Homo sapiens: one gene and its partners. The protein of the gene in region 4 purifies or fractionates together with the protein of the main gene of each other region. This does not show direct contact. Each region holds a gene or a part of one and is shown on either strand. Other genes may lie near its edges.

The links.
Region 1: the proteins of REEP1 (region 4) and ENDOD1 purify together in Homo sapiens (affinity purification with mass spectrometry; one large-scale study listed by BioGRID and IntAct). This does not show direct contact.
Region 2: the proteins of REEP1 (region 4) and CAV2 purify together in Homo sapiens (affinity purification with mass spectrometry; one large-scale study listed by BioGRID and IntAct). This does not show direct contact.
Region 3: the proteins of REEP1 (region 4) and ZFYVE27 purify together in Homo sapiens (co-immunoprecipitation; one study listed by IntAct). This does not show direct contact.
Region 5: the proteins of REEP1 (region 4) and PLSCR1 purify together in Homo sapiens (affinity purification with mass spectrometry; 2 studies listed by BioGRID and IntAct, with this or other methods). This does not show direct contact.

What each region holds. Positions count from the first base shown.
Region 1 is NC_000011.10:95,095,888-95,100,413, reverse strand, and holds part of ENDOD1 (endonuclease domain-containing 1 protein precursor), read right to left. Parts: intron 1-4,526. UniProt on the Homo sapiens protein: May act as a DNase and a RNase. Plays a role in the modulation of innate immune signaling through the cGAS-STING pathway by interacting with RNF26.
Region 2 is NC_000007.14:116,502,398-116,506,575, reverse strand, and holds part of CAV2 (caveolin-2), read right to left. Parts: intron 606-4,178; coding exon 455-605; coding exon of another isoform or gene 417-454; 3' UTR 1-416. UniProt on the Homo sapiens protein: May act as a scaffolding protein within caveolar membranes. Interacts directly with G-protein alpha subunits and can functionally regulate their activity.
Region 3 is NC_000010.11:97,749,986-97,754,511, reverse strand, and holds part of ZFYVE27 (protrudin), read right to left. Parts: intron 4,182-4,526; coding exon 4,042-4,181; intron 3,137-4,041; coding exon of another isoform or gene 3,122-3,136; coding exon 3,050-3,121; intron 1,656-3,049; coding exon 1,635-1,655; intron 1,475-1,634; coding exon 1,330-1,474; intron 1-1,329. UniProt on the Homo sapiens protein: Key regulator of RAB11-dependent vesicular trafficking during neurite extension through polarized membrane transport. Promotes axonal elongation and contributes to the establishment of neuronal cell polarity.
Region 4 is NC_000002.12:86,327,280-86,331,805, forward strand, and holds part of REEP1 (receptor expression-enhancing protein 1), read right to left. Parts: intron 1-4,526.
Region 5 is NC_000003.12:146,533,868-146,538,393, forward strand, and holds part of PLSCR1 (phospholipid scramblase 1), read right to left. Parts: intron 4,178-4,526; exon of another isoform or gene 4,129-4,177; intron 2,699-4,128; coding exon of another isoform or gene 2,686-2,698; coding exon 2,673-2,685; intron 1-2,672. UniProt on the Homo sapiens protein: Catalyzes calcium-induced ATP-independent rapid bidirectional and non-specific movement of phospholipids (lipid scrambling or lipid flip-flop) between the inner and outer leaflet of the plasma membrane resulting in collapse of the phospholipid asymmetry which leads to phosphatidylserine externalization on the cell surface.

The DNA of each region.
Region 1 (4,526 bases), on a different chromosome or scaffold from region 4:
AGGGACACAGATTATGCAGGATAAGGAGCTGTGTAGAGCACGATAAGGAGCTGTGTCCTTATCTGAAGAGCACTGGGGAGTCCTGAAGGGTTTCCAAAGAGGCCTTCAGAGTAGAGAAAGGATAGAGGAGAACCAGATGGAATGGGTTAACCAGTCAGGAAGCTGTCTTGCAGAGACTTAGATAGATGATGGGAACTTGGGCCCTAGAGTTCAGATAAGTCTGTGCAGGACTCGTATAGGAGGGAAGTCTGTCCACTAAGGAGCAGAAAGTAAGGTCATCAACCACCCCAAACACCTCATGTCTATGAAGGAGTTATATCTGGTTCTATGATGGATACTATGGCTCTAGATACAATGGAGATATCCAAGAATGAGAATAAAAGTTTTTTATGGTTCACAAACTTGGCTTTCTTTTCCCTGTGTTTCTGCGTGTCCCGAGAACATAGTGGATGCCCAATCTTTCAGAAACATCAACCGTAGATATTTCATTATGGGGTTCCTATTTAACCATGCATCCTGGTCCATTTAATCAACAAAGTTGACTTGGATCCCTTAGTTATAAACACTAAGATAACAGCAAGCAGATTTCCTGAAACCAGTGCTGCCATCTCACAAACATAGAGGGAAGGCACATTTACCAAGCTGTGATAAAGTCGGTATAGGGACAAATGCAAGAACCTGCAAAGATGAAGGACTTTAACTTACTAAACAGTCATAAAGGAAAAAGGAATTTTGGCACGTTCAAGGAGGTATACGTTCTGAGTTAGAGCAAAGTCCCTCCTCTTGTCCCAAAGTAGGACTTACTGCATTACTGGGTTATTAAGTTTAAGTGTTCTGCTGGTCTTCCTTCCTGGGAGCCAAGCTGGCTGCAGAGAAGGAGCTCCTGAACAGACTAGGGCTGGATGATGGATGTGTGGGTCTGCCACCTCTGCTCAAGGAGCGGAGCTCTGGAGGGTGTAGTCGGCCTGGGCACCTCCTTCCCACCCCTAGGGACAGCTGGCATTGAGACAGGAGATGGGCTCTCCTCAGGCTCATGCACCACATCCAATCCAACAGCCTGTCTGGCAGCAATGTCTCCATACGCCCAGAGATGCAAGACTCTATCCCCTACCCTCTTATCTCCGCTACTCACTGAGATGCAGGGGACAAAATCTGTTGCTCAACAGAGTTAACACAGTTTTTGGGTGATCCATTTTTCCCAGCTCTAACCTGGTGCCTTATGGAAAATGTCTGCTTGCATAAGGATAATAGGAAGAGCTCAAGATGGATCAGTATAGAACAAGACTGTACAAGGGGGCAGAGCACCCTCGGCCCAATGGAGTACTTGCAATAACCCCACCCTTCCTATAGCCACAAAGGTACACCTGGAGGTGGTGAGCCTCTGATATTCATGGGCGTGTGACTGCCAGAGCTAGAAACACACCCTCTATAAAATCCTGGTAAATGAACATGTGAACTTTTAAAAGATAAACTTCATTCAAGAGCATTCAATAGGAGCTCACCCAACACATCAACAGGTTTGCAACAGAAGCAGTCCATGTGTGCTCTGGTGTCAGACAGCTCAGGTTCAAACCCGAGCCCCACCTCTTCTTAGCTGTGTAAAAATGCAATAGTAGTTTAACCTCTCTGGGCCTGTTTCCTCCTCTAAGAAGGATAATAATAGTACCTATTTCTGACGATGCTGAGGATTACATGAAATTACATGTGAAAAAAAAAACACTAGAAAAGTGCCTCCTGCCATATGATAAGCATCCAATGAGCTCTAGACTGTACTTACTTGAAGGTCAATTGAATACCTGAAGGTATCTCGCACTCAGAGTGCCCAAAACGGAGTACCTTTTCCTCCTACAGCTGTATCAAAGTATAACTGATATACAAAGAATTGTACATATTTAATGTGATGAATTAAATGTGCAATAAATATGTAATAACCCATCACATAATTAATGTGCTGGGTTTGGATGTATGCAAATACCCATGATACAATCACAACAACCAAGGAGGGAGACATGTCCAACACCTCCCATACTTTCCTTGTGTCCTTTTGTTTGTTTTGTGTGCGTATTAAGAAAACTTAATATGAAATCTACTCTCTTAACAAATTTTGAAGTGCACAATACAATATCATCAACTATAGGCATTACATTGTACAGCAGATCTCTAGAACTGATTTATCCCATGTAACTGAAACTTTATACCCATTAAACAAGAGCTCCTCATCTTCCCCACCCCTCAGCCCCTGGTAGCCACTATAGGTTGAGCATCTCAGATCTGAAAATCCAAAATCCAATATGTTCCAAAATCCAAAGCTTTTTGAGTACTGACATGACATTCAAAGGAAATGCTCATTAAAGCATTTCAGATTTCAGATTTCCAGATTTGGGAGGTTCAGCCACTAATTCCAAAATCCAAAAAAAAATCTTCAAACTGAAACACTTCTGGTCCCAAGCATTTCAGATTAGGGATACTCAACCAGTATTATATTCTTGCTCTTATGAACAAAAGCGAGTTCTTGATATGGCCCCCAAACAGCCCCTCCTTTTGTATCCTTGTCTTATTCATGACAACTCCATTCTTCTGATTATTCAGGCCCAAACCCTTGGAGTCATCTCTTCCCTTTCTCTCACTCCAAAGACTATGAGCTCTTTCTTCACAATATATCCAGAATATACAGTGCTATCATCTTGATCCAAGATACTACTGTCTTGTCAGATCACTGAAACCTCCTAACTGGTTTCTTTGCTTCTGCCCTTAACACCACATGTCTATTCTCAATGCAGCAGCCAAAATGGTCCTATTTAAATGTAAGCCAGATCACATCGAAGCTCTCTGCTCAGAACCCTGCACAATTGCTTCCCACTTCACACACAGTAAAACCCCAATATTTTACAAATAGCTCAGAAGAATCTAAATGATCTGCCGTCTCCTTCCCCACTTCTCTGACCTCATCTCCTGCTACTCTCATTTACTCTTCTCTAGCCAAACCAGCCTCTTAGTTCTTCCTCAACACACTCATGCCTCCAGGCCTTTGCAATTACCATTCCCTTTACCCAGAACGTTTTCCCCCTCTATAGATGCCTGCATAATTGGCTTTCTTACTTCTTTCATGTCTATACCCAAAAGTCAACTCCTCAGTGATCTCTTCCCTGGATGGAAACCTTGTTTTAAACTTCACCTTTTCCTTGATATCTCATAGCCTCCTTCCTTGCTTTTTCTCCTTAACACTTATCACTGTCTAATATGCCTTTTTTTTTTTTTTGAAACAGGGTCTTACTCTGTCCCCCAGACTGGAGTGCAGTGGCATGATCTCAGCTCACCACAGCCTCTACCTCCCAGGCCCAAATGATCCTCCCACCTTAGCCTCCATGAGTAGTTGGGACTACAGGTGCATGCCAGCACTCCTCGCTAATTTTTGTAGAGATGGGTTTTTGCCATGTTGCCCAGGCTGGTCTCGAACTCTTAGGCTCAAATGATCAGACCGCCTTGGCCTCCCAAAGTAGTGGGATTACAGGCATGAGCCACCATGCTTGGCACCTTGTCTTTTATTTATTTATTTTATAATCTATATTCTCTATTAGATATAAACCCTATGAGAGTAGGTATTTTTGTCTGTAACCACTGCTCTCTTTCCAGGACTTAGAATAGTGCCTCACACATAGCAGATGCTCAATAAAGATTTGTTGACTAAAATGAATTGACAGAGGGCTCAGGGCTTTCTTAAAGCATTAGGTGTCCCTGCCAACTGGAAGTCAATAAAAACTGAAGACCAATCAGCCCTTAAAGTATAAGTCAACTGAAACATGTAATTACATTTATATTTTCAAATAATATTTCAGCCATCTGTTTATTCTACAAAGTAAAATGTACCCGTATTTTCAGCTTTGATTAAAAATATAAACTACCCTCTGTTTGACCTTTTGATTGAGCCACACTTCTGTTCAGCACTAGGTCAATGAAGCATGACTGGAATATTAAACGGTGCTTCTATTCTTGGTTCAGCCTATGAGTCAGTTTCTTTTTCATTTCTCCTTCCTTTCAGTGGCCAAATAGATATATCGACAGGCAATGAATTATTACTATGACAGATGTTAAGTTTCATGAAAATGAAAGGGTAAGTCACCATTCAGAAGATATAACATGCATCTTGAAGGAGGAAATTTGAAAAAAAAAAAAAAAAAAAAAAAAAGCTTTCTTGACTAACAGTAATTCTAGAAGATAGACCAGATAACTGAAAACAAATGCTACTGGCAAATAAGAGGATTTACTTTCTAAAATTTTCACTTTCAGAGATGAGAGTTTAAAAGGAAGAGAAATTTTATGCCCAAAGAATAAAATCTCAATTCCCTAAGGAAAGCTCCATTCAATCACCATGAATCACCAGTAACGGAGCTAAAAGAAATCTGAAGCTGGCATTTACATACAGAATGGTATGTTAGTAGTGAAACCATAAACCATCCAAAGAACTGGATTAAAAATAAAATAACAAGTCTAGTCAGCCAGTTTGGATTCTGGAGAGAAAAAACTAA
Region 2 (4,178 bases), on a different chromosome or scaffold from region 4:
TCTCAGTATGCCAGTGACTATATATGTAAAGGTAATTTAAAAAGTATTACTCCCAGAGTAAAAACAGACAAACAAATAAGAAATCTCATTTTTAATGGGAAGTTGTGCATAAAACTATTGTAGTATTTTTATAGAAATGTCCCTTAATCATTATAAGTTCATCATTATAAAATGTATACTATTGTACTAAAGCAAAACTGTCTGCCTTTAAATCTAAGTGGTGTCAACTTACTGTATAATTCTGGTTACAAAGTTAGATATGAAATCTTTGGCTATTAATTAGAAAAGCATTATTTGAAAAGACCTGTCAATAAACATTTCTAAATGTGGTTGCTCATCTTAATAGTTTTCTTAATTAGAACAGCTAGGAAATGAACAGAACAGTGGTGCTTTTATGTTATAATAACAAAGAAGTATTACAGTATCCCAATCTCCAGACCTGGGGTCCAAGTATTCAATCCTGGCTCAGTTGCAGGCTGACAGAAGAGAAGCATCGTCCTACGCTCGTACACAATGGAGCAATGATAACATCTGTCACACTCTTCCATATTGTCTGCACTGAAGGCAGAACCATTAGGCAGGTCTTTACAAAAGGCATTAAAATCCTGGAAGGAAGGAAGAGAGATGTGTGAGGATTGTTGCTGTTACCAAATAAGGTCTGTCTTGTACATGTATGAAAAGATAAAATACTGACCCATTTACTTAAATTTGGTTGAGAGTTTGAAACAAATAAATGAACAATGATCACTGATAATGATTTGGGTTTTTTGTCCCCCTGACTCTCATTTTGAAATGTAGTCCCCAGTGTTGGAGGTGGGGCCGAGTGGGGATAATTGGATCACAGCGGGTAGATCCCTCATGAATGTCTTAGTGCCTGCCACCCTCTTGGTAACGTGAGTTCTCACTCAGTTAGTTTGCTTGAGATCTGATTAACTAAAAGAGTCTGGGACCTCCACATTCTCTCTCTTGCTCCCTTTCTTGCCATGTGACGTGCCTGCTCCTCCTTCTCCTTCCACTATAAGTGGAAGCTTCCTGAGGTCCTTGCCTAAAGTAGATGCTGGCACTGTGCTTCCTGTACAGCCCGCAGAACTGTGAGCAAAAATAAACCTCTTTTCTTTATAAATAACCTAGTCTCAGGTATTCCTTCATAGTAATGCAAATGGACTAAAGTGATAAGATGCACAAAAAATATGTTGCCTAAAAATATAGTCATGTAGATAATAAACACTAATATTCTTTCTACTGGTGGCATGCTATCTGAAACAGTAAAACAAAAATAAATAAAACCATGTCTTTATCTACCTGGTCTCTGCCAGTTAACATTAACCTGCTTAAGTCTTCACACTTCCCTGAGGGTTTACTTCCTGATAGCCTTTCCTGCTGCCTCAGTCTTCTTCCCTTTTCCTGGACCAGGCTAGATCGGATATTCCCTCATTGTATTTCTAAAGTACTGAAACAAACTTCTTAATTTTCACATGTATCAAAAGGTATTATAAATAGATGCTGTATTTCTGTCTTTCCTACTAGCGTTTAAGTTTTTTTAAACAGTGAGGACATCCTTGACCCTTAGTAAATGGTTGAGCTAACATAAATTTATCATTCTTTTATGCCTTATGTTATTAACTATGTTTTATATTTTTTAATTTTTTCACAGTAATCACACACACTGAAAAGGGCTGTATGGTATAGTTGAAAGAACCCTGCAAATGATGTTAGAACTTTTACACAAGAAAACTAGTCTATCCTGAAATTGTTATTTTTCATACACTTGTTCCTAACATAGCTGCATATCCTTATAGTCCTCAGGATGGTTAATTTTATATGTAATTTTCTAAATAATGTTCTCTGTTGTAGTAATGTCCTCTGAGCACAAAAGTAGTTGTGAGATTTTCAGGCACTGCTGGTAGCCTCAATGGAAGCTTTATTATTACCTGGGTGGGCATAAGGGAGTAGGCTGATTTTCTTGGTTTGCTATTAAAATATGACTTAAATGAGGGTCTGCTGTACTTAGCCCAAAATGAAGGAAATATTAGGCAGCTTTCTGATTGATTGATATATTTTTAGAATATAGAATTATTCACATTGACTGTCTCCACAAATTGTGTTTTATTTCAAGTGCTAAATACATGAAACACTTTTATATAATAAGAAAATTAATTACTAAGTGTTTCAGAGATAAATAGCTGAATAGAAACCTCAATGATGGCAACTTTAGACTTATTATTCTATTATATTTCTCACTTGATATGTGGTCTTGGGCATGTTGCTACAAATTAAAGTGACACCAGGAGATCTCTCAGAACTGGCTATGAGGATTGACATTTATTATGTACCCCTGAAATGCCTGTATGATGCTGTCATTATAATGTATAATAAATAGACCTATTTTGAAGGCAGAATATATAATGAAAATAACTATAACAAGATGACCTCAAATTGGCCTATTAAAAGGCTGAAGTTTAGATCAGAAAGTTTCCTAACCAAATCCACTTCACTTAGAATTCCTTCCTTCTTTCTTTCTTTCTCTTTCTTTCTTTTTCTTTCTCTTTCTTTCTTTCTTTCCTTTCTTTTCTTTTTTCTTTCTTCTTTTCTTTCTTTCTTTCCTTCTTTCTCTTTTTCTTTCTGTCTTCCTCCCTCCCTCCCTCCCTCCCTTCCTTCCTTCCTCCCTCCCTCCCTCCCTCCCTCCCTCTCTTTCTTTCTCTCTTTCTTCTCCCCTCCCCTCCTCTTCCCTTCCCTTCCTTCTTTCTTTTCAGGTTCTCACTCTATTGCCCAGGCTGGAGAGCAGTGAAGTGATCTCGGCTCACTGCAACCTTCGCCTCCCGGGTTCGAGTGATTCTCCTGCCTCAGCCTCCCTGAGTAGCTGGGATCATGGGCACTTGCTACTATGCTTGGCTAATTTTTGTATTTTTAGTAGAGACAGAGTTTCACCATGTTGGCCAGGCTGTTCTTGAACTCCTGACCTCAAGTGATCTGCCCAGCTTGGCCTCCCAAAGTGCTGGGATTACAGGCGAGAGCCACTGCTCCCAGCCAGAATACAATGTACTTTCTATTCTTCCTTAGGCTAACAAATTTTCTATCTCCGTGACTCCTTAGATCTCCATGTCCTAAAAGGGAATTTAGCACATGTCAAAAGTGAATCTTCTTGTTCAGCAAAGCAGTTACCCACATTCGAGGAGTTCAGTTTATAGGGTGTTGTTAACTCATTTGGATTTTATTTTTGTTTACTTGTGTTCCCTCATTTTGGAGCAGAGAATCTAATGATCCTCCGACATCAAACTTAAGTTGGGTTCTCAACATCACAAATAGTTTAGCTTCTGAAACTCCAGGCAGTTCTGATTGACCCAAAATTTGGTTGAGGCTGAATGTGGCCAATACTTCTTAAGTAAATCTTATAATATATATATATTATATATATTAATATATGTAAGGTTATATATTCCTTGGATAATATATATCCTTGGATAATAAGGCCATAGGATAGAGACTTTTATTTAGTGTTGTAGTAATTGTAGAGTCATGCAGACTGCATTCATAGCAATTTACTGTATGAAAACTGTCTTCTAGAAATGAGATTGCTACTATCGCATTTCCATCAGTTGGGCATTTGTTTGCTTTGCATTCCAGCAAAAATAAGGGATATGGGTGCTCCAGCCACATTTCTTTGGTTATGATCCACTTATGACCAATAACCTGTGCTTAACAAACAGCAGCTATCTCTGTCTGACTGTAGTATGGAATCCAACTAATTCACTGATTCCTAATGGCCCGTACTTCTGGTCTAGGATCCAACACCACCAGACTTCTGTGTTTTATTGTTGTTGATTGTTTGTTTAAAGGATCTAAAATCTGACCTGTTTTAATATTGTGACATGGTTCAAAGTTCCACTACTGCATATTTTCCTAGCTTTGGTCACCACTAACTTTTTGGTAAAAACAATACACAAGCCCCTGCTTTAAAAAATATATATAAAAAGAAAACAAAACAAAAAAAGCTTGCCCAAATGGGTTTGCAATTCTGTAAGGTCTGTCCTTGATCTGGTCTTATCATGTCATGGGAATGCAATCTATTAATGATAAACCTATTTTATCAAGGCATAGCTAACTTTTAAGCATTCTTGTTTGAAATTACTCCTCTACTTGCAATCACAGCTGCCTGGTGACAAATGTTTTACAGTTAA
Region 3 (4,526 bases), on a different chromosome or scaffold from region 4:
AAGACCCTGTCTCTACAAAAAAAATTCAAAAATTAGCCAGGCATGGTGCTACATGCCTGTAGTCCCAGCTACTCGGGAGGCTGAGCTGTGAGGATCACTTGAGCCCAGGAAGTCGAGGATGCAGTGAGCTGTGATCATGCCACTGCACTCCAGCCTGGGAGACACAGTGAGACCTTGTCTCAAAAAAAAAAAAAAAAAGGGATCTTGAATAACTGGGGGACATTCACACAGCAGAAAGAAAGAGCCTGTCCAGGACATCTAATCCTGAGAAAACAACTGCCCTGGCTGCTGCAGGGGTAGGAAGGCAGGACCCTGGGGGCCCTGAGTCAAATTCCTCAAGATAAACTCCATTGTCTTCTTCCAGGGCACAGACCCTAGAACTCACTCAACACCAGAACACACAGTACTGCCCCCTTACCCTGCTCCCATCTGACAGCAGGCAGGAGGGCCCTTCCTCAGGAGCACAGCAGCTCCCAGGTCAACCTAGCTACTCTAGGTTTCCACCATAATTGTATGTGGCTCAGCTCTCAGCGCTGCTGATCTGAGCCAGGTCTCTAAGCTGTGCTGTCAAGTCCACCCTTCTCCAAAGCTGCCTTCCTTGACCGCTCTCCCCCGACCCTCAGTAAAATAAGGACTGGCTGGGGAGAGGTGAACTCAGGGCTCTATCACGTCCAGAGAAACAATGTTTGCTTCAACTTGCTTCCAGCTGGATAAGAAAGACCAAGACAGGATCCTAGGAACCCACAGCGTGGGTCAGGGCCTCCCACATTAACCGCACCCACTACTTACTATGAACCAACCAGCACTGTGCTAGCCCTTCGTAAGTACTACTGTCTCATTTGACATGAGACCTGTAACAACCCTATGAGGTAAGAATGATGATCCCCCTTTTACAGAAGGGGAAACTGAGGCACGGGGTGTGAAATAATTTGCTCAAGGACACCTGGCTGAGCTGGGATTTGCAGCAGGCAGTGAGACTCTACTCTGTTCCTCACCATCATGCTACACTGCCTTCTGAAGTTCTGTCAGGATTATGGTTCTCTACAGTCCTGGGATGGCATTTCCCAAACTGAGTTCCTTGTCTTCCCACAACTGAATGTCCAATCAGGATGGAGGGACAAGAAGGAACCCACACCCACTCCCTCAGCAGTCCTGCCGGGCATCTGCTAGCTCCCCGGGGTCCCGCGGACACACCTTCACTCCCTGCTCTTGTCACAAGTCAGTACCCACAGTTCTGAGACTCTGCCCCTGTGGCTGGGTGTTCCCCACTAGAGTCCCAGAAGTCCACCCCCACTCCCCCACCAGCCCAGCCCTGTCCCCTGGCCGCACCGAAGTTGTTGGTGGGGTAGCGCTTGCGGAGCCGCTCCGTGAGCCGAGACACCTTGCTGCGCAGCACCTCATTCTTGCTCAGGAACCCGTTGTCCTGCAGGGCCAGCTCATCCTCTGCTGGGCACGGGGCGCCCTCATCATCCTCCTGTGGGAACAGCTCCTTCCAGTCCTGCCCACCTCTTGCAAGGCTGCAGGACCCGTGTGCAGAGGCATCCTGCGCGGCAGCCCCCACGAGGTGTGGCAGCAGCCGGTTCAGCCACCCTCCCCAGCCCAGCCCCTGCCCACCCACCAAGGCTTCCACTTACCAGCACCACCAAGTGGGTCTCCTGCCTCCCAAGGTGCGGGGAAGAGGAGAGAAAACAGAAAGAAAAAGATAGCAAGAAGAAAGAAGCTACCTGGAGGGGCCCCCAAGCAGAAGGAAGCATGGAAGCGCTGCTCTGAGCTCTGCGCACTTCCCAAATGGTGACATTGACAGACGCCCCCCACAAGAGGATCCCAGCATCAAACAGCCTTGGAGAAAGCTAGGTACTACAGTTTCTCAAACTGGGTGAAAATAATTTAGTAGGTCTTTATTTGAATAGAACAGAAAAGGAAAGAAAATATCCCTTACAACGTATTTTCCGGAAACTTTTGTTTCACTTAAGTTTTACATATTTTATAGACCTAAGTGTGACCTGGGTCAAGATGCAAAATGTGTTCCTTACTATGGGTCATGAACAAAAATGCTTGAAAACCCCTGCTCTACATATTCCCTCCACCAAGATTCACGGTCTACAATCATATATCAAAGTTTTGGAGCAATCTTTTAGCCATCAGAAAGTCAAATGCCTGCATGGCCTGGGCTGATGTATGATTGAGGTGAGTTGGGGTAAATCACAGGCCTGGTGGAAATCCACGAGGTGTTTTTCTTATATCTCAATTTCCCACTTTACAAAGAGAAATAAATAAAGAGAAATGATATCCTACTCTAAGAAAAACAAAAACGCAAATGTGACAAATGGCAACTCCCACTTGACCTCAGTGACAAAATACAGCAGGGGGTGTTGAGGACCACCTGTAGCCACAGCATGTGACCTGCGTAAAGGGGACAGCAGCTCCTTAGCTACACCTACTGCTGCAGACTCAGGACTACCAGAGAAACTGGAAACCTGCAGTTCTAATAAAAATCTCTCCATATTTAAACATTGGCTCAAAAAATTATTTTGAAACTTTGCATGCCAAATAAAACACTTCTGCAAACTACCAATTTGAATTACCATCCTAAAATCAAGAAAGCTGTTTAACTTCCTCTGACCTAGCACTTGGCCATGCAACTACTTTCTCCAACCTCCCCTCCCAGCCCCGCAAAGGGACATCTTACGGAACTCACTCTGCAGAAGAGCGGAGACCCAGGGCAGTAGCCTCCTCAAAAGCTGCCTTTCCTATATCAAAGGCACCAAGCCCACGGTCTCCAGCAAAGGCCAGAAATCGTCCAGCTCCCCTAGCAGGGCATTACCCGGAGACTTCCAGAGCCACTCTTGCCCTGGGCACCCAGGACAGCTGGCTCAACCAGAAACAGGAGTGGGGAGGGGTTCAGTGGCACTCTTTCAACCAGTGAGTTCTAGCTCACAGCAAGTTTTAGCTTCTCACTTGGACATTAAAAAACAAAAACAAAAAACAGCTCCAGGACCACCCAATTTCTGGCCTGCTGAGTAGAGGATGCTGGGGAAGGGCCACCCACCTCAATCGCATCTTTAAACTCTTCATCTGGCTCAGCCTCCTCAGCCTCCTCCACGCTGCCCGGTGTGAGGTCCTGGGAAGAGAGACTCTATGACAGAAGGAGAAGGATGGCAGCGCTGCTCCCTAAGGCAGAGGACCACCTCCCCAAGCCAGCATCCAGGCTACCCAAAACACCACGAAATGGCACAATGGCAAGAAAGAAGGAACTCACAGGAAGGAGCAACCTCTAGCCTGGCAGGGCGGGGGAGATGGAAACACGAGCACAGCTGGCCCTACAGTGGCCACATCGCACAGTGGTTGAAGGCACGAGCTCTAGAACCACAGGGCTGGGGTCTTAGACCCAGCCCTGCCACTTACCAGCCACTCTGTGCCTCAGCCTTCTCTTCCACAAATGAGAATGATCTCTTTCTCAGAAATAACCAGCCTGGTGCAGTGGCTCACGCCTGTAATCCCAGCACTTTGGGAGGCCGAGGCAGGCACATCACTTGAGCCCAGGAGTTTGAGACCAGCCTGGGCAACATGGCAAAACCTCATCTTTACTAAAAATACAAAAAAATTAGCTGGGCGTGGTGGCACCTGCCTGCAGTCCCAGCTACCCAAGAGGCTGAGGTGGGAGGACTGCCTGAGCCCAGGAGATGGAGGTTGTAGTGAGCTGTGATTGCCCCACTGCCCTCTAGCCTGGGTGACAGAGGGAGGCCTTATCTCAAAAAAAAAGGAAAAAAAAAAAAGAAAAGGAAAGAAAGAACCTGCACTCCATGATGTGAATATCTATCTATAAAGCACTTGGAGCAGCATCTGACACAGGGTAAGCACTCAGTGAAGCATGGAGTAGCTGTTTTTATTACAATTATTATTATTGAACACTTCAGGGGAGTTAAGGCCTGGGAAATAGCAGGAACTACAACAGAGGCCAGCCCAGGAGCCAAAAACAAGCTGATAACAGGGGGGCCCACAAGCGGCCACAGCAGGCTCTGCCCTGACAGTGGCACTTACCTCCGTGGGTGTGAGGGCAGGCGTGCTGTCCATCAGACCATCCTTCCCCCCAACATCTGGTGGTGGAGGACTCTCAAAGGCATGCTCTTCCTGCTTTGGGTTCATCCTCTGCTGCAGAGATGCCCTGTACTCAGACACAACTACCCAGGGAATGGAGAACAAGGTAGGAGGCAAAAATGAGACACCGTGAGTGGCACTTTAGGGGTACCCACTTCTGCAGCTGGCTGGCCTCTCTTCCCTTCACTACAGGAAAGAGTCACCCTCCTAACTCTGAGCGAGTCACCTAACTTAAGCCTCTTAAACAAAACTTAGATACCACCACCTGCCCCAGACAGCTACAGAGATTAAATGTAGTAAATGCTCAATAAATCATGGCTTCTGTAATAAATAACTCTACCACAGGGAGGAAAACAAATACAGCAATCACCCAAACATATGTACAGACTCGGGCCTCTGCGACTCAGTGCCTCTCCAGACTGCCTCAG
Region 4 (4,526 bases):
AAAAAGACTTATTCTAAGGTCTCTAACTGGTAGCTCTATTATAGAAATAATATATATTATTAATATATGTATGTGCAAAGGGTGCTGGATGGGACAAGCTTGCCACCTTCTAAGAATAGTGAGGAGGCTGCAGCTGAGTGAGAGAGGGGAGGCCACTGCAAGGTAAGGTCAGAGCGTGGGCAGGAGCCAGACCTTGGTGAGTGTTGTTGACAATGGTAAGGACTTTGAGTTTTACTCTTAGTGAGATGGAGCAGTTTTTAAACAGCAGGGGAAAGATGGTCTATCTTACTTTTTTTTTTTTTTTTGGAGATGGGGCCTCGCTCTGCCGCCCAGGCTGGAGTACAGTGGCGTGATCTCGGCTCACTGCAAGCTCTGCCTCCCAGGTTCACGCCATTCTCCTGCCTCAGCCTCCTGAGTAGCTGGGACTACAGGCACCCGCCTCCACATCCGGCTAATTTTTTGTATTTTTAGTGCAGACGGGATTTCACCGTGTTAGCCAGGATGGTCTGGATCTCCTGATCTCATGATCTGCCCGCCTCGGCCTCCCAAAGTGCTGGGATTACAGGCATGAGCCACCGTGCCTGGCCCTATCTTACATTTTAATGAGATCACCGGAGGGACAGGAATAGAAGCAGAGAAAACAGTCAGGAGGGTTTTCAATGGTCCAGGAGAGCAACAGTATTTGGTTGGAGCAGGGTGGCAGTGGTGGAGGTGGGAGTCATGGGTAGACAGGCGAGTATTTTGAAGGCAGAGCTAGGAGAACTTGCTGAGAGCCTGGATTCCACAACACGCAGCCTGAAGTGTGCACAGATCCTGCTGGATCCTGCAACTCCCTCAGGAGGGGCACGTGTGGACTCGTGGTTCTCAGCTTCAGGTGCTCATGAGAAAAAGTCCTTGCATGTTCTTGGAAATCCAACGTGAATCTCCAGCATCAGCTGGCCAGGCTCACTAGCCTCTTTCTCAAGGTGGGTTGTATTCCCTCTCCTCTGAGCAGCGTGACCCACTCAGCCCAATATTCTGTCTCACAGGCATAGCTTTGGCAGTCTAAGCCCTAGTTGTGACAAGACTAAATTTTACACTGATCACAATTAGGCAGCCAATCTGTGAAAGTAAGAAAGGAGGCCAGGCCCAGTGGCTCATGCCTGTAATTCCAGCACTTTGGGAGGCCAAGGTGAGGAATCACGAGGTCAGGAGATCGAGACCATCCTGGCCAACATGGTGAAACCCCGTCTCTACTAAAATACAAAAAATTAGCTGGGCGTGGTGGCGGGCACCTGTAGTCCCGGCTACTCGGGAGGCTGAGGCAGGGGAATTGCTTGAACCCAGGAGGTGGAGACTGCAGTGAGCCAAGATGGTGCCACTGCACTCCAGCCTGGCGACAGAGTAAGAATCCATCTTAAAAAAGAAAAAAAAGAAAGTGAGACAGGAGGGCTGCCTTGACCCCTCTGTGGGACTTGTGACAGGGGTGTGGCTTGCTTACTCGGCCTGCAGTGCTCAAACCCCTTGCAGGAGGGGAAGCATGCAGGTGAGCAGGTGCCAGGGCTGGGGTGAGCACTTTTGGGCTCTGGTCCCGTGGCAGCGTCTAGGGGTGTGTTACAATTAATGCTGTTTTAGCAGTTGCCGTCTGCAGATGGCTGTTAACCAGCTCAGTGGAGAGTCAGGGTGACAGTCTTTTATACCCTGCCCTCTTGGTACCCGGGTTCCAGGAAGAACCCGGCATCCTGGAAGAATCAGGTCACACAGACTTGAAGGATGGTGAATGCAGAGATTTTATTGAGTGATGGAGGTGGTTCTCAGTGAGATGGGGAGCTGGAAAGGGGATACAGTGGGAAGATAATCTTCCCCTGGAGTGCGGCCATCCCTGGCCAAACTCCTCTCAACGTTCAGATGCTTCTCTTCTCTCCTCTGCCATGCCACTCTGCTTCTCTGCCAGTGGAGTTTGGGGTTTTTATGGATACAGGATGCGGGGTGTGGCGAGCCAGAGTGGTTTTGGAAAAAGCAATATTTGGGCAGGAAAACAGGGATAACTGTTCTCATTTAGGGCCGCAGTTTCCAGGCTTGAGGGTGGGGCCTTTGCCAGGGAACTGCCCTCTTCTATCCAGTGTTTCCCTGCCTCCTGTCCATATCAAAAGGTTCTTGGCTGGGCACTGGGTTGACAGAGTCTAGATATGCTATTTAGAACTCATCATAAAAACTTGGGGTCAGAACCTCTCAGAACCAGAAAGCATGAATGACAGTCTAGCACAAATGGTGGCTTGCAATTGAATCCCAGGTCCAAGGTCCACAGACAATAATGAAAACCTCAGGCAAGTCCATCTCTTTTCAATTCACAGGGGACATGATGGCACCCTGTCTCCTGACTCAGCCCTTCTCAGGCTTTATGGGGATCTTGTTAAAATGCAGATTCACCAGGCCTGGGACTCTGCATTCCTAACTATTCCAGTAATGCCAATGCTGCTGGTGCACAGACCACACTCTGAGGAGTGAGGTCCTGACTCATTCACCACCCAACACGCACTCGCTGGGCACCTACTGCATATGAGAAACTATAAGGGAGACGAAGCAGATGTGGTCTGTAAGGGGATATCAACGCACAGACCACTATAGCACCAGGAACAAAGTGACAATGCCACTCTGGAGACCCAGAGGACAGAAATCTTTCTTGGTTAGGGGACCTAGGAGAGGCTTCATGGAGAAAGGTAGAGACATGTATGGAGAGTGTAGTGAAAGCCAGAGGGCACCTTCCAAGGCTTTAGCTATGGAATGGCATCGGTTCTTTGTAATTGCTAATTTCTCCTCAGACTTAAGACCTCCTTTCTTGACTCACGAACAGAATAAAGGGACTAAAAGGGAAGTGAGAAAGATATTTCTAGTGTAGAGATTGAAGGAGTATGTCAGGATTCTCCCAGTTGCACAATACCATATTATGCCAAGGACATTTCTAGGTTTGCAAAGCTGGTTAGGAGTCATTCATTCAACATATATGCTGGTCATTAGGGCTGTTCTTTAGTGAGGAGTGTAACCACTTGAATTCAGGTTTGGCCAATGACATGTGAGCAGAAATGGCATGTTATCATCTCCAGGTGCAGGTACTTATGAGCTAGTATGTGACTCTCCCTACCACAGTGAATCCTGGTGTGTGTGTGTGTGTGTGTGTGTGTGTGTGTGTGTGTGTGTGTGTGTTAAGACAGGGTCTCACTCTGTTGCTCAGGCTCAGTGCAGTGGCATGATCTCGGCTCACTGCAACCTCCAGCTCCCAGGCTCAAGTGATCCTCCCACCTCATCCTCCAAGTAGCTGGGACCACAGGTGCACACCACCATGCCCAGCTAATTTTTGTATTTTTTTTGTAGAGATGGGGTTTTGCCATGTTGCCCAGGCTGGTCTCAAATTCCTGGGCTCAAGTGATCTGTCCACCTCTGCCTCCCAAAGTGCTGGGATTACACGGTCAGCCACCGTGCCCAGCCAGAATCCTGATGTCTTATAACGATAAGACAAAGGAAATCCAGTCAGCCTGGGACTCTCAGTGAATGCGATGAGCAGAGTACCCCTGCCAACCCACAGTAACAGGCAGCAGAAAGCAAGAAATAAACCTTTGTTTTCTTGAGCCACTGGGATTTGGGAGTTGTTCCTGCAGCATACCCCAGTCCATCCGAACAACAAATATTTAATGGATTATAAGCAGCATTTAAAGTTTTCATTCTAGGATATCGGACAGTTCATGGCATCAAAAAAGCAGCTGCAGGAACTGGGGCCCGAGCAACCAGAACCAAGATTCTCTTGTGCCAGCCTCTTTCTCTCACCCAAGTCTCATCTCCATTTATTTTTGCTTTGTTGTATTCTTCACTTTTACTTATGGACTTTCTCCACGTATGCCAGGGGCTTTAGATGCCTCAGCCCTAACTTCATATCTTCCCAACTCTGGAACCCATAGGCAAGGCTATTCTCCCTCAGCTCCAAATCAAGAAACCCTGGGGAAGGATCTCAGTTTGGGTCACCTGCCCACCTCTGGACCAATGTCTGTGCCCAGGGAAATGCATATCTAGGCCTGGGTCACATGCTGACTTCTGTGGCTGAGTGAAGGGAGGCAGGATGCAGCATGCTACCAGAAGGGAATGGAAAACTAGTTTTGCAGCCCAAAGTACTATCCAGAGTCCCCTACAAAGAGGGGGAAAGGATATACACACCTAAGTATGCAGGAGAATGCCTAAGGCAGACTTTGAGCTGTGATCAGTGAAAGGAAAAAAAAAAGGTGGGGGGGCGGGGAATGTAGTATAGATACGCAGGATAGTCCTAAGAGGAAAGAGAAGCAGGGCAAGACAGCCTCTAGGCTGGACAGCTACCTAGAGTGGGAACAGGAGGCACCTTTGTCCTAGAACTGCCAGGTGACTGACAAGGCCACGGGGAGAGGGAGAGATAGGATGTCAGGAGGAGATGTTAACTCAAATAACAGATGCTCTCTGTTTACTAATCTAGTAAATCTGACAATGGGGCAGACCTTTTCTGATCAGGAATGAGCTAAGTGTGG
Region 5 (4,526 bases), on a different chromosome or scaffold from region 4:
ATTACATACAGACTACGAAGAAAGAGATAAATGAAATTAATGGGATGTGAAGATGGTAGAATTATGGATGATTTTAAAGATATCTATCATCATTGCTGTAAGTATTATTTTAAATATTTAAAATAATGAATATACTTCAGTATTTATATATGTTATGCTTACTCTGGAACTACACCAATGAAGTTGAACCATATGAAATTCCCCAAATATGACTGTTTTTGACCCACAAAAGCCATGTTTAATTACAATACACTAGCATATTAAACTTTGTTATTTGCTAATAAGGCTTGAGTAAACTTAATATATGCACAAATGGTTCAACCTCCTAAATATTAATATTCATGTCTATCTAGTCATTCGGTTACCTACCGCAGCCAGTCTCTAAATATTTACTGAGCATGTCCTGTGTCACCCTTGAATTAGGCTCTGTGGCTACAATGGCTCTGCTTTCATACAGCTTAAGGTGCAGTAGACACTACACTTATCTCCTTATCTGTTTCCTTATGAATTACTAACTGTAAATTCAAAGTCTTTTGTTTTAGAATCATGGAGACATGGCATCAATATAGAAGAACATATAGGTCAAACTTTCACTGTAACACATTTTTCTGTATGTGTCTCTATTATGAACTTTCAAAGACCACTCAACTTGTGAATCGTGTGGTTTTATCAGGAAGATTGGATTGTTTCCCCCACCCCCTGCCCCGGCCTTTCTCCTTCATAAATAGCTTCATGATGACTTCAGCGGAATCCAGTCCATGGTGATTGTGTAAAATCAGGCAAAAAAACCGCTCTCCTACTCGTTCAAGACTAGCCTGGCCAACAAAATGAAACCCCATCTCTACTAAAAATACAAAAATTAGCCAGGCATGGTGGCACGCGCCTGTAGTCCCAGCAACTCAGGAGGCTGAGGCAGGAGAATCACTTAAACCCGGGAGGCGGAGGTTGCAGTGAGCCGAGATCGTGCCACTGCACTCCAGCCTGGGCGACAGAGCGAGACTCCATCTCAAATAAATAAATAAATAAATAAATAACACAAAACAACAACAAAAAACAAATGAGGACTTTTCCCTGGACAAACATTGCAACATACCTTGTGATTTGTGAATCATCACAAATCTCTGAAACTCCCCATCATTCTTTCCCATCCATTCTCTTCTATTTCTCAGCATCAAGTGACTGACCTAACTCCCTAGTTCTCTAGCTAATAAGGCCCTGCCTGCAGCCCCTACTCCCAAATTAAGTTGGAAACACAGCATCAGACTCAGAATAGATTTCAAGAAAATATTTTGCAAGTCTGAAGTAAAGATCTACCCTTGACAGGTATGTCACATTGTGATACCTCTTAATAAGCAACATTGTTTGAATACTATAACATAGAACACACACACACACACATATACAGGAACAGACAGACTCAAGAAATCATGAGCTCACAATCTCTGGGCTTTTGGTACCAAAGCAATGATTCTGATTTCAGGCATTCCAGGGGGAATTCATACAAGGAGAATGAGTGAATGGGCAGGTGTTCAAGCAGAACAAAGAGCATGTTAATTATGGTTTGATTACTGCGTTTTTGAAATGCAACTTAAAATGGCTTATAAGAAGTACAAGTCTATCACATTGTCTTAAAGGTACTTTTTTTTATGTCTACATGTATGTATATATACATATTTACACATTTATTCACACACATATACACATTTTATTTCTATTTATGCAAATACATTCATACATACATACAATTATATATACAAAACTGAAGAGTTAAAAGTTGCCTATGACCATCACCAGATACATTTTTGTAAATTGAGTGGAATCAACTTAAAGTCTGTGGCAAATAAACCAGTATAATTCTATATAAATTTACATTTAAAAAGCTTTGAGTTTTGTAAGTAAAAAGAAAATCATAAAACTTCACATGGGAAAAGCAAGGAGTCTAGTCCTGGAGATTATTTCATATATCTAATAAGGGTGACACTGTAGTGACAGATAAATATTTTTTTGTTACCTCAACAAAGATGAAAGAGAGAATAAAGAAAAGCGTTTCAGAAAAACAGGATTTAATTTTTGAATTTAATTTTCCCTATGTAGTGGGAATTTTGAACATAATTTTCCCTCTGTTCTTCAGAACCTTGATATCTTAATAAGACAGTCTTTTATTACTTGCTTGATAAATATCCATCTTACTTAGAATTTTCTTGAGAGAAAAAAAGCCAGAACATAATGACTGGTATTTACTTAAAATACAAACATGTGTCTGTGATGAAATATACATTGAGGTGTGTATCTGAGGAGTTTATTACAATGAACTCAAATCTTATTATCTGTTAATTAGTATGACTTGAATAATCTTTATACATATAAAATACACAAAGAGAATATTGTTGTGGTTTAAATATATGTTACAGAACATATTTCCCAATAAATCTAGCATTTCTTAGCTTTCCAAAAGGCTTTCGTATTTTTAATGAAGAACCTAGTGATAGTGCTATTTTTGTACATCTTCTCTATAGTCAAAATACTGAACTAGACATTGTATTCTGGAGCATAAACAACAGAAAACAAATTATACACTTTCAGACACTGAATAAAACATTATGACAAATAACAAGTTACCAACAGATTAACATTATAAGGAGGAAAGTAAACATTTAAAATAAATTACTTACTTTGTTTGTCCATGATTAAAACAGTTCTGAAAAAGAAGATCTGACATTAACACACTGTCTACAAGGCCACAAGTCAAATATAACAGTTGAATCGGGATACTCTAAAACTACACAGTCACATTCATAGGATATTCCTCTTTATTCATCCAGCCCAGCCTTATCTGGTCATTTAAGCCCTTTGTGCTTGACTGCATTCCCCTTGCTGTGTTTCTGAGTAGGAATTTAGAAATTGTTGGTCAGCTCATGATGGTGAACACATTCTAAAGCCTTTTGGGAAGAGGGTCCAGTGAGGCAGAAAGCCATAAAGACACACTATGAGCTAAGACTCCAAGTAGTAACCAAGCTAATAACATCAACCTTCACAACTTGAACAATCTAAAGGAAATGCTTGGTTCAGTTCCCAGTCTTTGGACTGGAAATGCTTGGCCCAGTCTCTGGGCCCCAGGAATGTTCCAGCAGGAAAGCAAAAAATGTTAATTATCAGGTCACACTACTGCAATTATCTTGGGAAATGTAGGTCTTGTGGACCTGTTCTTTGCAAATTTGAGAAGGCCTGAGACGACTCCGTGCATTCAGAGATTTTTTTTTTTTTTTAACCAGAAAACCCACTCTCAGGAGTTGTCACAGCCATAGCACCTTGACCACCCAAGTGAAACTTTGTACTCGGTATTTATACAGAAACATAAATTGCAGCAAACATTCTACTCAATATTTCTGCCTTCCAGTGCCTTGATCCGATCCTAGTTTTTCCCACTACTATCCTGTCACTACTTTTTCCATCTCCTGTAGATCCCGATGCCCTTCATCCCTTTTAGCGACAATGCATTAGGCAAAACTCTGCTACCCAACATTTTTATCTTGGACCCACACACACTAACACAAACTGCCCATCCCCTTCCCAGGCCCACTCCAGTGCTGGCTACCCTTTAAATTATCTTACTGTGCAATCCTAAGTGGTTAATAAGTCAAGTGATCCCTCTACATGCTCAACTAAAATCAAGACTTCCCAAGAAGAAACCGCCTTCCTCCTTGCTGTTTCAGAATTATTTTTTGGCCAGGGATGGTGGCTTATGCCTATAATGCCAGTATTTTGGGAAGCTGAGGCAGGAGGATCACTTGAGTCCAGAAGTTTGAGATCAGCCTGGGCAACATGGACAGACACTGTCTCTACTAAAAAAAAATTAGCCAAGCATGGTGGCATGCGCTTGTAGTCCCAACTACTCGGGAGGTTGAGGTGGGAGGATTGCTTGAGCCTGGAATATTGACGGTCTAATGAAGTATGATGTCATCACTGCATTCCAGCCTGGGTGACAGAGCAAGACTGTGTTTTAAAATAAAGGGTTTTTTTTGTTTGTTTGTTTTGTTTTGATTATTGCCAACTTTAAGCACAAAATTTTATAATCAACTTAAAGTCTTAAGAACATTCCAATTATAGTCAACTCTTAATTATACATACTCAAGAAGTTCAGCAATGGTTGAATAATTCAAAATGGGTTTATGTGGTCCTGAAATAAATCAAAAGATGTGTTTGTGTTACTAACTTCCCAGATTTTCTTAGGACAATAGGAATCTCAGTTTGCATTAACTGGTCAGAAATTAATGCTGTAGACCTCAAGCCAGAAAGGTAGAAATATTAAAATTTATACTTTTCTGCTGTTAATCTATAAGGTGAGCAATAATAAACACATGTAACCAAAGTAGACTAAAAGTTTTCAAGACTACATTTGTTTTAGATTCCATCATATGAAGAACTGTGTAAGACTAAATTCATACATAAGAGGACATGATTTTTGTCAATCTCACATTTCTACCATCAAAGACTATACTTTAAAATGCCAATTTTTTAAAAATATG